Regions from separate parts of the Homo sapiens genome. Here regions 2 and 3 are each reported to be linked to region 1. Evidence: microRNA targets listed by miRTarBase, many of them from high-throughput screens and not tested one by one. Region 1 holds a microRNA gene; each other region holds the end of a gene's coding sequence.

The links. The annotated mature microRNA hsa-miR-1301-3p reads UUGCAGCUGCCUGGGAGUGACUUC and lies in region 1 at 1,694-1,717, opposite strand. An mRNA with a match to its seed (bases 2 to 7 or 8) in the 3' UTR can be bound and repressed. Matches are read on the target gene's strand: a 7mer-m8 pairs with bases 2 to 8, a 7mer-A1 pairs with bases 2 to 7 and ends in A, and an 8mer does both.
Region 2: the mRNA of ARIH2 is a reported target of hsa-miR-1301-3p. Seed matches in the 3' UTR shown: 7mer-A1 at 2,744-2,750 and 8mer at 1,277-1,284.
Region 3: the mRNA of SLC25A26 is a reported target of hsa-miR-1301-3p. Seed matches in the 3' UTR shown: 8mer at 1,184-1,191.

What each region holds. Positions count from the first base shown.
Region 1 is chr2:25,326,958-25,330,093 of GRCh38, forward strand. MIR1301 (microRNA 1301) reads right to left here and starts at 1,764; the gene lies at 1,683-1,764. The region is part of intron 1 of DNMT3A (DNA methyltransferase 3 alpha); the gene reads right to left. RefSeq lists an enhancer at 3,068-3,136.
Region 2 is chr3:48,982,921-48,986,056 of GRCh38, reverse strand. ARIH2 (ariadne RBR E3 ubiquitin protein ligase 2) reads right to left here. Exons shown (of 16, transcript NM_006321.4): 15 at 3,078-3,136; 16 at 1-2,858. The coding sequence ends at 2,787. LOC124909376 (a long non-coding RNA gene) reads left to right here. Exons shown (of 2, transcript XR_007095903.1): 2 at 324-572. Among named protein-coding and RNA genes, the nearest start is that of P4HTM, 5.8 kb to the left of the region's middle.
Region 3 is chr3:66,377,266-66,380,401 of GRCh38, forward strand. It overlaps SLC25A26 (solute carrier family 25 member 26), which reads left to right. Exons shown (of 10, transcript NM_001379210.1): 10 at 425-1,658. The coding sequence ends at 542. LRIG1 (leucine rich repeats and immunoglobulin like domains 1) reads right to left here. Exons shown (of 19, transcript NM_015541.3): 19 at 1,532-3,136. The coding sequence ends at 2,998. Among named protein-coding and RNA genes, the nearest start is that of LRIG1, 120 kb to the right of the region's middle.

The DNA of each region.
Region 1 (3,136 bases):
AAAAAGATGGATTTCCAGTAAATTCCAGAGGGTGGATTTCCAGCAAGTTCTGCCAACATGGCATTACAGAGACGTTGCCATCCAGGGAGCCATCGCCACACCCTCTCCATCAAGGTGTGGATCTCAACCCTGCGGGGCCTCTTCCTTGGGCACTCTGTGGCAACCCTAGAGGTAGGGGCTGTTCTCATATCTATTATTTTTGTATTCTTTGGAGTTATTTTTACTTCTTACTAGCCAATTCCTCATTATTCCAATCCAATTAGAGTTAATAATTCGTTATGTGAAACTTTCCTTGTTCCAATCACCATGTGGTTTCTGTCTTCTGAATGGACCCTGACTGATACAGTCACCCGCGGCCCCAAAGGGCTTTTTTCCATCCTCATGGCCCTTGAGCTCAATTCAACATCCTGGCCAGCTAATCACTCCCTGCTTCAAGCACTCACTCAACAGCCATTTCTTGAGTGCCATTGTGGAGCCGGGCCCTGGAGTGAAAGGAGACCCCTGCTTCTGGAGCTCACCAGCAACTGCCTTCTGTGTGTTCTCTCCCAGCCATGACTCCATCTGGCTCCTTGCTTCTGGGTCTCCAGCCTCAGATTCTGCAGCTTTGTCTCTGGGGCTGTCCGGGAGTCTTGATCCCACTTCTGCACGGTGGGTGCTCCTCAAAGGTCATGTTCTACCTTCAGCTTCTCTCTAAATGCTCTTCCTCTAAGACACCTGGGCATAAGTTAACATACGCCTCCTACTGCCAGGGGCTCCAGCTCTATTTATTTTCATCCCAACTGGATGACTTGCAGTCCCTAAAATCCTACTCTTCCAGAACATGCTTCTTTCAGAGCCGGCTCTATTTTCTGGTTTTTCCCTCTATGTGGAAGTAACATTCCCCTCCCTTCAGCTGCCTAAGTCCCAAACCCTGGAGAAAACTCAGGTCCCACCTTTCCCCTGGGTCCTCACATCCAGCAGGTACCTGGTCCTTGGGCTTCTCTCGTCCCCCTATTCCCTCCAGGCCCTTTGTACCTCTTGTGTCTGTGGCACAATAACCTGGTAGATGCCCTGGAGCGGGTCCACCTGCCTCTGGCATCTCTACCTCCCACCCCACCCTATCAGCAAGGATTGCCCACACATGGCTCCCTCTATGAAAACCTATGACACCTCATGACAATTTTAAAAAGTTGATTGTGAATGTACTAAAACCATCGAACTGTACACTTATATGGGTGAACTGTATGGAATGTGAATTATATCTTAAAGCTATTATTTTTAAAAATCCGGTGATGCCAAAGATTTGCACACGTGGTAAAATATACGCTCTGGCCTGGTCTCACCAGGGCTGGCTACAACGCAGCCTCCGCCCACTGCTCTGGCCGTGCCCCCACCTCTCCCAGCTGCATCATTCCAGGCCCGGCTGCTGTCCCGGAATGACACCCCTGGCTCCCACCCTCTCCCACAGGGCCCACTCAGCTCCTCTCTCCCAGTCCTTCAACCCAACATCTCTCCTCCCCCAAAACACCGTCCCCTTCTCCTCGACCACCCACCCAGGGGTCATTGAGTGTTCCATGCGTATATAGATGTGTCTGATTTCTCAAAGAGACGAGGTCAGAGTTCATGCGTTGTATCTTGCTGCCCGTCCCCCCCGCCCACAGCTTGTCCCCCGCAACCCCGTTCCGGGTGACCCTGGAGGCAGAGAGGACTGTGTGAAGTCACTCCCAGGCAGCTGCAACATCCCCAGCACAGTGCTGCGGTGCCTAGAGCGACCCCCCACAATCCCCATTCTAGGGGTCGCTTGGCAGAGCCCCCAAGGCACTGCGTCAGTGGAAAGGCTGTTTGCAGGAGCTCCGAGGGCAGAACATACACCTGCTGTGGGTCTGCAGGCTCACCTGCCCCAGATCCCCAAGGTGAAGGGGTTGGTGAGGGCCTAGGCTATCAGTGAACCACAGGAATCAGGGGGGCTGAGTCCTTGTCTGGCCTGTGACCACCCTCTCCCCACACCGTCCATGGCCACAGTCCCCCAACCCCACTTCCTAAACCAGCTCCCTCTTGGGTCAAAACCAGGAGGTCCCCCAAAGGGTCTTCAGGGCTTGGGAGCGGCTGTTGGAGCTCGTCCCCCACCACCCCAACCAATTCAGCAGGAAGGGAGCTCGCTGCTCTCAGATTTCCCACAGGGCCGCCTTTCTCCTCATCGTCTGTCCCAACAAAAACAAACCATTTGTGGAGGGGGCCGAGGGAGGGAGAAGAGCCCAGGGTTCTGAGCAGCACATCTCAGAACCATGGGCCCTGCCTCCAGCAGTCCCTGCCTCAAACCCTGGCTCTGTCACTGAGAGATTCGGGCCTCAGTTTCCCAAGTTGTAAAGCGGGGTGAGAAAGAGTCCCTATTTCATAAGTCTATTTTAAGATAGGAGGGAATCTGAGTCAAGTGTTTAACATAGGGCCTGGCACGTGGCAGGTACTCAATAAATGATCATTTAAAAATTATTATGTGCTTGATCAGAAAGAAAGGCAAGCCATATGTTCTTAGGAAACCTAGACTCTGGCTTCAGACCACACTTCAGAGTGGCTTGTGCTCACTCCTAGGAACGGCTGCTGTGCCAGGCTCCCCCTCCCAGCTGATGCCCCTAAGTCTCCAGCCCAGGCCCCGTGCCACTAGAATGGGGAATGTATTTACCAGAGAATGTCTACCTGCCACTGTGGCCTCAGGAGTCTCTCACAGTCATGCAGACCCCACACACACACACACACACACACACACACACACACACACAGACACACAGATACAAACACACATAGATGCACACACAGAGATATACCTAGACAAATGCAGAGATGACCCAGGCGCACAGGTTCACACACGCACACAGCCCCCCTCATGCTGCACACGCTGGGGCACCTGGAGCCAGAGGATGCTGGGCGGGCCTTCCGACACAGGCACACGCGTTGCACATTTCACCTACTGTATGGGCCAAAGAGGCATTTGGAAACCAGCTTGGGAACCTCATAACCATTCATAACATTGTTCTGAGAGAAAACACAAAACATTGCCCTATAAACAAACATTTGCAATAGAATTCCTCCAAAAGCTTGGAAATGCCTGTACTAGAAAACTAACAGAGCAAGAAGAGAAAAACCACATAAACTTGGTTTG
Region 2 (3,136 bases), not on the chromosome of region 1:
AATGTGGACCCCCTTAATCAATCCAAACCTCATTTCCTGTCCTTCACCCTTGAGATTAGACTCCACACTTGTTTCTGCCCCAAGTTGTCTCTTCATAACCCTTAGGGCTCCCGTGAAGCTGGAGTTCACCCTGCCATATTCCACAGCCCTACATTCCCATGTCTGCTTTGGAGGGGTCCGGAGGTCTCAGAATGGGGGGGTTGGGACATTTATATCAGTACTCTACCACAACCCTGGGATCTATCTGTGGTGGGGAATGATTCAGCCTGTACTGAGGGAGAGGAGAGCGGAAAACTGGCAGGATTTTCTACTTCATTCCACAGGGATCACTTACAGGTGCCCTCTCCCCCAACAGCCAGAAAGGGAAAACAGAGCCGAGTTTGGCCACTGGGGCCTCCACAGCCCTCTGGAAGAAGGGGCTGACTGATAGGAAGGCACTCCTCTGGTGTTCACTGGCCAGACCCCTGTGGGCTCAGAAGACTACCTAGACCCCATGAAGAAAGACTCTAGACACATTTTTATAATCAGAAACTTACAGTTTATTGTGAATAAACCACTCAACTTTGAGCAGATGACATTGCCTCAATTAACTTTTTCGTTGAAGAAAAACAAAGATATATGGTAAATTCATGAAAATACTGTGTCCTTTCTCTTCCACCCTTTGTAGGGCAGAAAAATTCTGCCTGACCTTTCCCATCTTCCTGATGATGTTAACAAACGACAGCCACTGAGGGCACAGGAGGGGGCTCTACACAGGCCAAGAGCTACAGGCTACAGTCTGAGCACAGAAAACCCTCCAGCTCCAGCATCCAGGGCCACAGCTGGACACAAGTACAGAACCTGGCAGCCCTGCAGCCCAGACAATGCCCAGGGTGTGATTTAGGGTGCAGAGCTGCAACTCAGATCCTGTGCCATGGCAGTATCACAGGAAGGACTTGACGGAGAGGTGAAGGCTCCAGACGCCAGGATATTTATTCCCTGTGCCAATACAGCATTCACACCTGACCTCCAGGTCCTGCAGCAGGTACTCTCCTCATTCACAGTTAGCTCCCCACTGTTCCATTCTGGGTTCATTTGCTATACTCCTAATCTGTTCTCCCAATCCACCCCACAGTCTCTCCCTTGCTGGGGACAACACAGGAAGAGACAAAACCTGAGGAAGGAAAAAGGGAACCTGCAACCAGCCATGGACCTCATGATCCCATGAGTCACAGCTATCCTCTGTCTTTAAGAATGACTGTTTTATAGCTTACATGGTACCTGGGAAATTGCTGACTTGCAGCTGAAATGTATGAATACCAAAGAATTTCTATCACAATATTCACAGATCTCTGTATCAGCTCTACTTGGAGGTCAAGCAGGCTTGGGAGAGTATAGACTGCTCTGCCTGCCCTAGAGTGGAAGCATTGAACAAAGCCACAAAAACCCCAGAGATCACAGATCTAACTTTTCAATGGCCCACAGGACCAGGTTCAGGACAGGTAGGACACCAGGCAAACCACTTGTTCCCTTGCGCTTCATTGTGCAAAAGCTGGTCTGTTCCTCTGGCCAGACCCTCCTTAGTACAGGATCTCGGACCACAAACCAAGGAGTCTCGTGGCCTTGGATTCCCAGACCCTAGGATGGTATCCCTCTGACAGCTGGAACCAGGCAAGGGGGAACACACCTCAGCCTCAGAGCAGCCTCTGGACACTCTCCAGGTAACATGAAAATAACTTGTGCAAACACAGCCCCCATGCCAGAAAGTCCAGTGCCCTAGGAAGGGCTATCCTGAATTCTGACCCTGATGTTTGCCAAAGGAGAATGCAGCAAGACAGTGTCAGGTTTGGCCAAATGTGACCCTGCTCAGAGCTATACCACTTGAATACTGGCACAAAAGAAAGGACCAAGGTAAAGCAAATTTATTTGGGAGGAACAATTCCCTTCAAAAGTAGATCCCTATCTTTAGGAGACAAAAGGCAACACTGTGATGAACCCACACCCCCTAGTTTGGGGGGCCACAGGCCCAACCCCATTCTGCTGTGGGCTCTAGCCTCAGTAGCCAGATCCAGGTAAACCTCAGTTTCAAGAATAAAGGTGAGCCACAGACATGCAGCACCACCAGAGACAACAACACCCCGTGGCAAGAAGACCATGTTCTGGACTGTCTCCGTACTGCCACGGTAAGGCAGGAGGCATGCTGTGACCCCTTGTGCTCCATGCCCATTGCACAGGCCAGTTCAATTCCCTACCATCTGCCACCCATGCTCTTCTTTGGGACTACAACTCTGGCCAAACGTGAATATGGAAAGCAGAGGCCCAGGGCCCTCTTGCAGTACAGACATTTTGAGGTGGGTAGGCAGCATATGTTACATTCTAAGTAAAACAGCTAGAGGGTAAAACACTCCAATGCCAATTTATTTTCAAAAAGGGCTCTGTGTTATCCTATAGTTTGCCTTTTTTTTTTTTTTGTATAATTGTACAACCTTTGAAAGTTACATAAGTTGTAATGATCTAATACTATTAATAGCCATTCAGAAAACACTTTCCCTCCCTCCCAACAACCATCCAGGGGGAAATAAAAGTCCTGAAAAGAGGCCAGTTCAACATGGCCTCTACCCTGGTAGAAACAAAAAGTGAAAAGAGAAGAAAACAGAAATCAACTAAGAGGTGTTGCCAGTGTCTCTCAGGAGTGGGGCCCTGGCTGTTGCCTGGGGTCATGAAAGGCAGAGCCTGCAGCATGCAGTATGGCAGCCGGGAGACCTTGCAGCCACATCTTCCTCACCCCGGCACATCCACATCCCAACTTAGGTGTCATGGAAATCTTTCAGCAGGGTTCTCCTCCGCTGCTCCGCTATATGCATCTGGTTCTCCAAGTCCTGCATCAGAGAAACAAGGTGTGTGCTTGCATGGCCCAGGCCTGGGAGCAAGGAGTAGCCAAAGCCACAAACACCCTCCAGGACCTCCAAGGAGTCAAAAACACTGCCCTTCCCATTCTTAGCAGCAGCTACCAGTGCACAAGCCAACAACGCTGTCACCTATTACCATGCCAGTCCTCTACCTGCAATATAGAATCCAAGAGGACAGTAGGCACTTACCCCTCTGTCATAGCTGTCTGCACGCTCCACTTTCCATGAGAGGTTTTCGATCTCAGCCT
Region 3 (3,136 bases), not on the chromosome of region 1:
ACAGGGAATCCATGGAGGTTCAACTCGTTGTCGTGACGTCATGTTTTGGGGTCTCGAAGGACAAAATGCAACTGAGTCAGTGGGTGGAGCGGCAGCATTGCCCAAAAATCTCTTCACTGAGCAACCCCTGGAGATCACTTTAGAGGTGTGGGCTGGAAGTGCCTTCCAGCCTTACCTAGGATTCAGCTCTTTAACACCTTTTTAAAAAAAATCAATTTCATGTTTCAAAGGGAAAAATGGCATGAAAGTTTTAGAACTACTGTTGGGACACAGCTATTACTTGCCTTATTTGGGAGCGTTCACAAGCTGTTTGGTAGTTAGCCACTAATGAGCATGGTGTATTGAGCTGAGCAAGCTGTGGGTATTGGAATTTAACCTTTTTTTAAAATACGCACAACATTAAAAATCCTGTTTTTTCCCCTAGATTATTTGCAGGTGTCTTCCCTCGAATGGCAGCCATCAGTCTGGGAGGTTTCATCTTTCTGGGGGCTTATGACCGAACGCACAGCTTGCTGTTGGAAGTTGGCAGAAAGAGTCCTTGAAGCAGAGACAAGCCTCACCTCCACTTCTGTCAAGAGAGGGGCCTGCAGTGCAAACCCTCTTCCGCTGAGCAGCTGTCTGAACTATAGGCCCCAGTGCTGAAGACCAGTTGTGCTAAGATACCGGCATGGAGATTGTGCCATCCGTGGTATAGGCTGGCTGGTATGAAGTCATTGGCCTGTATGCCAGAGAGCTAAGAGAAGAAAACGGGGTCTGTGGCGGTACTCTGAACAATTTCCTCAGAACCTCTTAATAAATAAGTTTGGTAATGCTGAGGCCAGGCCTTTTAGAGCTTTCATTTGATCTGTATCTGATCTTTCATTTCCTGCCACCTGATGGTGGATTCAGCAGAAGGCAAGATGGTTATAATTCTAAAAGAATAGCTTGTTTGTTTGTTTGGGAAAAGGAGACTTGGGGAAGAGTTGTGTATGTGGGTGTTTCTCCCCCTAGTTAATTCCTGTTGTGTAAGGGTAGGCTTTGTTGAAAAAGAAAGAAAGATTGAACTACAGGTGCATAGCAAGCACTCTTTCTGGGTAACTAGGCTGCTGGTTTTAATTACCCTCAGATTTCACCCATAAAAACGCACAATTGTATTATTTTACAGAGATGTGTCCAGCGCCCCCTGTGGTGTGTGAGAGAAAGCAGCTGCAACTCAAGTGACTAGGTGGGCCCAGCTGGCTTCGTGCAGGAGGGCACGGTGGGTGAGCCATTCTCGCCATTCTCATGTCAGACTGAAAGGAGGGCCTGGGCCAGCTTTGAAAAGGCAGGATGAAATGGAAAGGTCACCACACTTAGGGATTTTAGACCTTGACTAACAAGCTCCAGGTGTAGAAAAATTCAAAACAAAATGTCAGGAATCTAGCAGTGTTGTCTGCCCTGGAGCAAACAAACAGTATGTGATTTTGCTTCGCCTATTTTTTTTTTCTTTTTTGGGGGAAGATAATTAAAGGCAGAATGACTGCGTTTGTAAAAGAAGGACCACCAACTATACTGACATTTATAAATGAACCTTTATTAAAGACACTTCAATGCCATTTGTTAGACACTTCAATATTTTACATGGTTTTCAATGTACACTGTACCAAAATTTCTATAAATAAATAACTTTGTACATAAAAGTAATACTCCCTCTTTCACATTGCCTCTCAGAAGCAGCAAATTCACATATTTTGTGGAAGTAAGATTAGTCAGTTAACTGTCAAGAACAAAATTCTAAATGTGCTTACCTTTTGAACAGTGATGACACCTGACAGTAATTGTTAACTATTTTCTCAGTAACTCCCTTCAGCTTTTGGCCAAAGGAACATTTGAAGGACCTTGTTTCTATTTAAGTTTTACTAAATGACACATTGGCACTCATAAGATGGTTAGCTACCAGTCTCAAAAGTGCAAATTATACCCAGAACCCAGGTCAAGGGCTGTCCTTTCCAGTCCCAGCTCAGTTTCATCTGTGCGAAGGAATGGCATGGACAGGCCTGCTCTGGGTCCTTAGTAGAAATAAGGTAGCCCTGAAAAGTCAGAACTTCCTCCTTTCTGTCCCCCAAGGCCAATGTAATACTCATTATATTGGCAAAACGAAAACATCAGTATAGAAAAATCCACAGGTACCAACACCAGCAGCCTTTACCTTAATTTAAAAGTCTCAAATAGCAATCGAATGATACTGAGAAGGCCACATTTGCTTTTATCATAAAATAAGAGGAGGAGGAAAGGCAGTGTTTAACTGTTCTGACCTTTTGCTTGTGATGGATTAACAACCCTCATTCTACGCCTTACAGACGGACAGATTCTACGCCTTACAGACAGACAGGACTTAAACCTAAAAGGAAAAGCCATTCACTGCAAGTGTGGATGGCACTTGCACCCCTGGCTCTACAGACAGGGAAGCCTGTTGCAGGGGCATCCACACATGAGCAGTGCTCACCTGAAGCTCCTTCCGGCGCATGTGGAGTCCCACCGCACAGCAGCCTAGGGGTCTATGAAGTGCAATATAAATCCAAGGCCTTCCATCCTTCCCACCCCGCACCAAAAACTCCTGTGAACAAATGTGGTTGTAGCCTCTATAAATTCCAGCCATGCGTTAAGGCACCAGAACTATTTCCCCACCCCCTCCAAAATTAAACAGCAACCTGATACGAAAAATAATATTGTCAAAATTGTATAATTTTTTTCTGTTAACCATGCACTAAAGATTAAAATAGCCTCTGTAAAAGATATATATGAAATCTCTGAAAACTCTTATGTACAATGATATCAAATACTTTTTTTGCCTTTTGTACACAAATCCCCTCTTGCGTTTACTGTGCTTCAGATCCAAGTCCTGTGAGCGACTGATACTCCACATGGGAGTTACAACTATGTACAGATGAGTGACGCTTGAACCCAAGCTTCCTCGCAGCCTCTCCTACCTCTCTTTCCCGTAGAGATTGGTATGACAAGAACTGAGGTAGACAAAACCTAGCTTTTTGGTGCCAACAGCAGTGGCACCCTCTGTTTCCCGGGGAGCTGTCCTGTCAGTGGCGTGGACTCGGGACTGGCGTCACATGCTTTGGGGAGGTGGCCATTGGAAACAAGCAAGTACTGGGCTTCCGCGCGC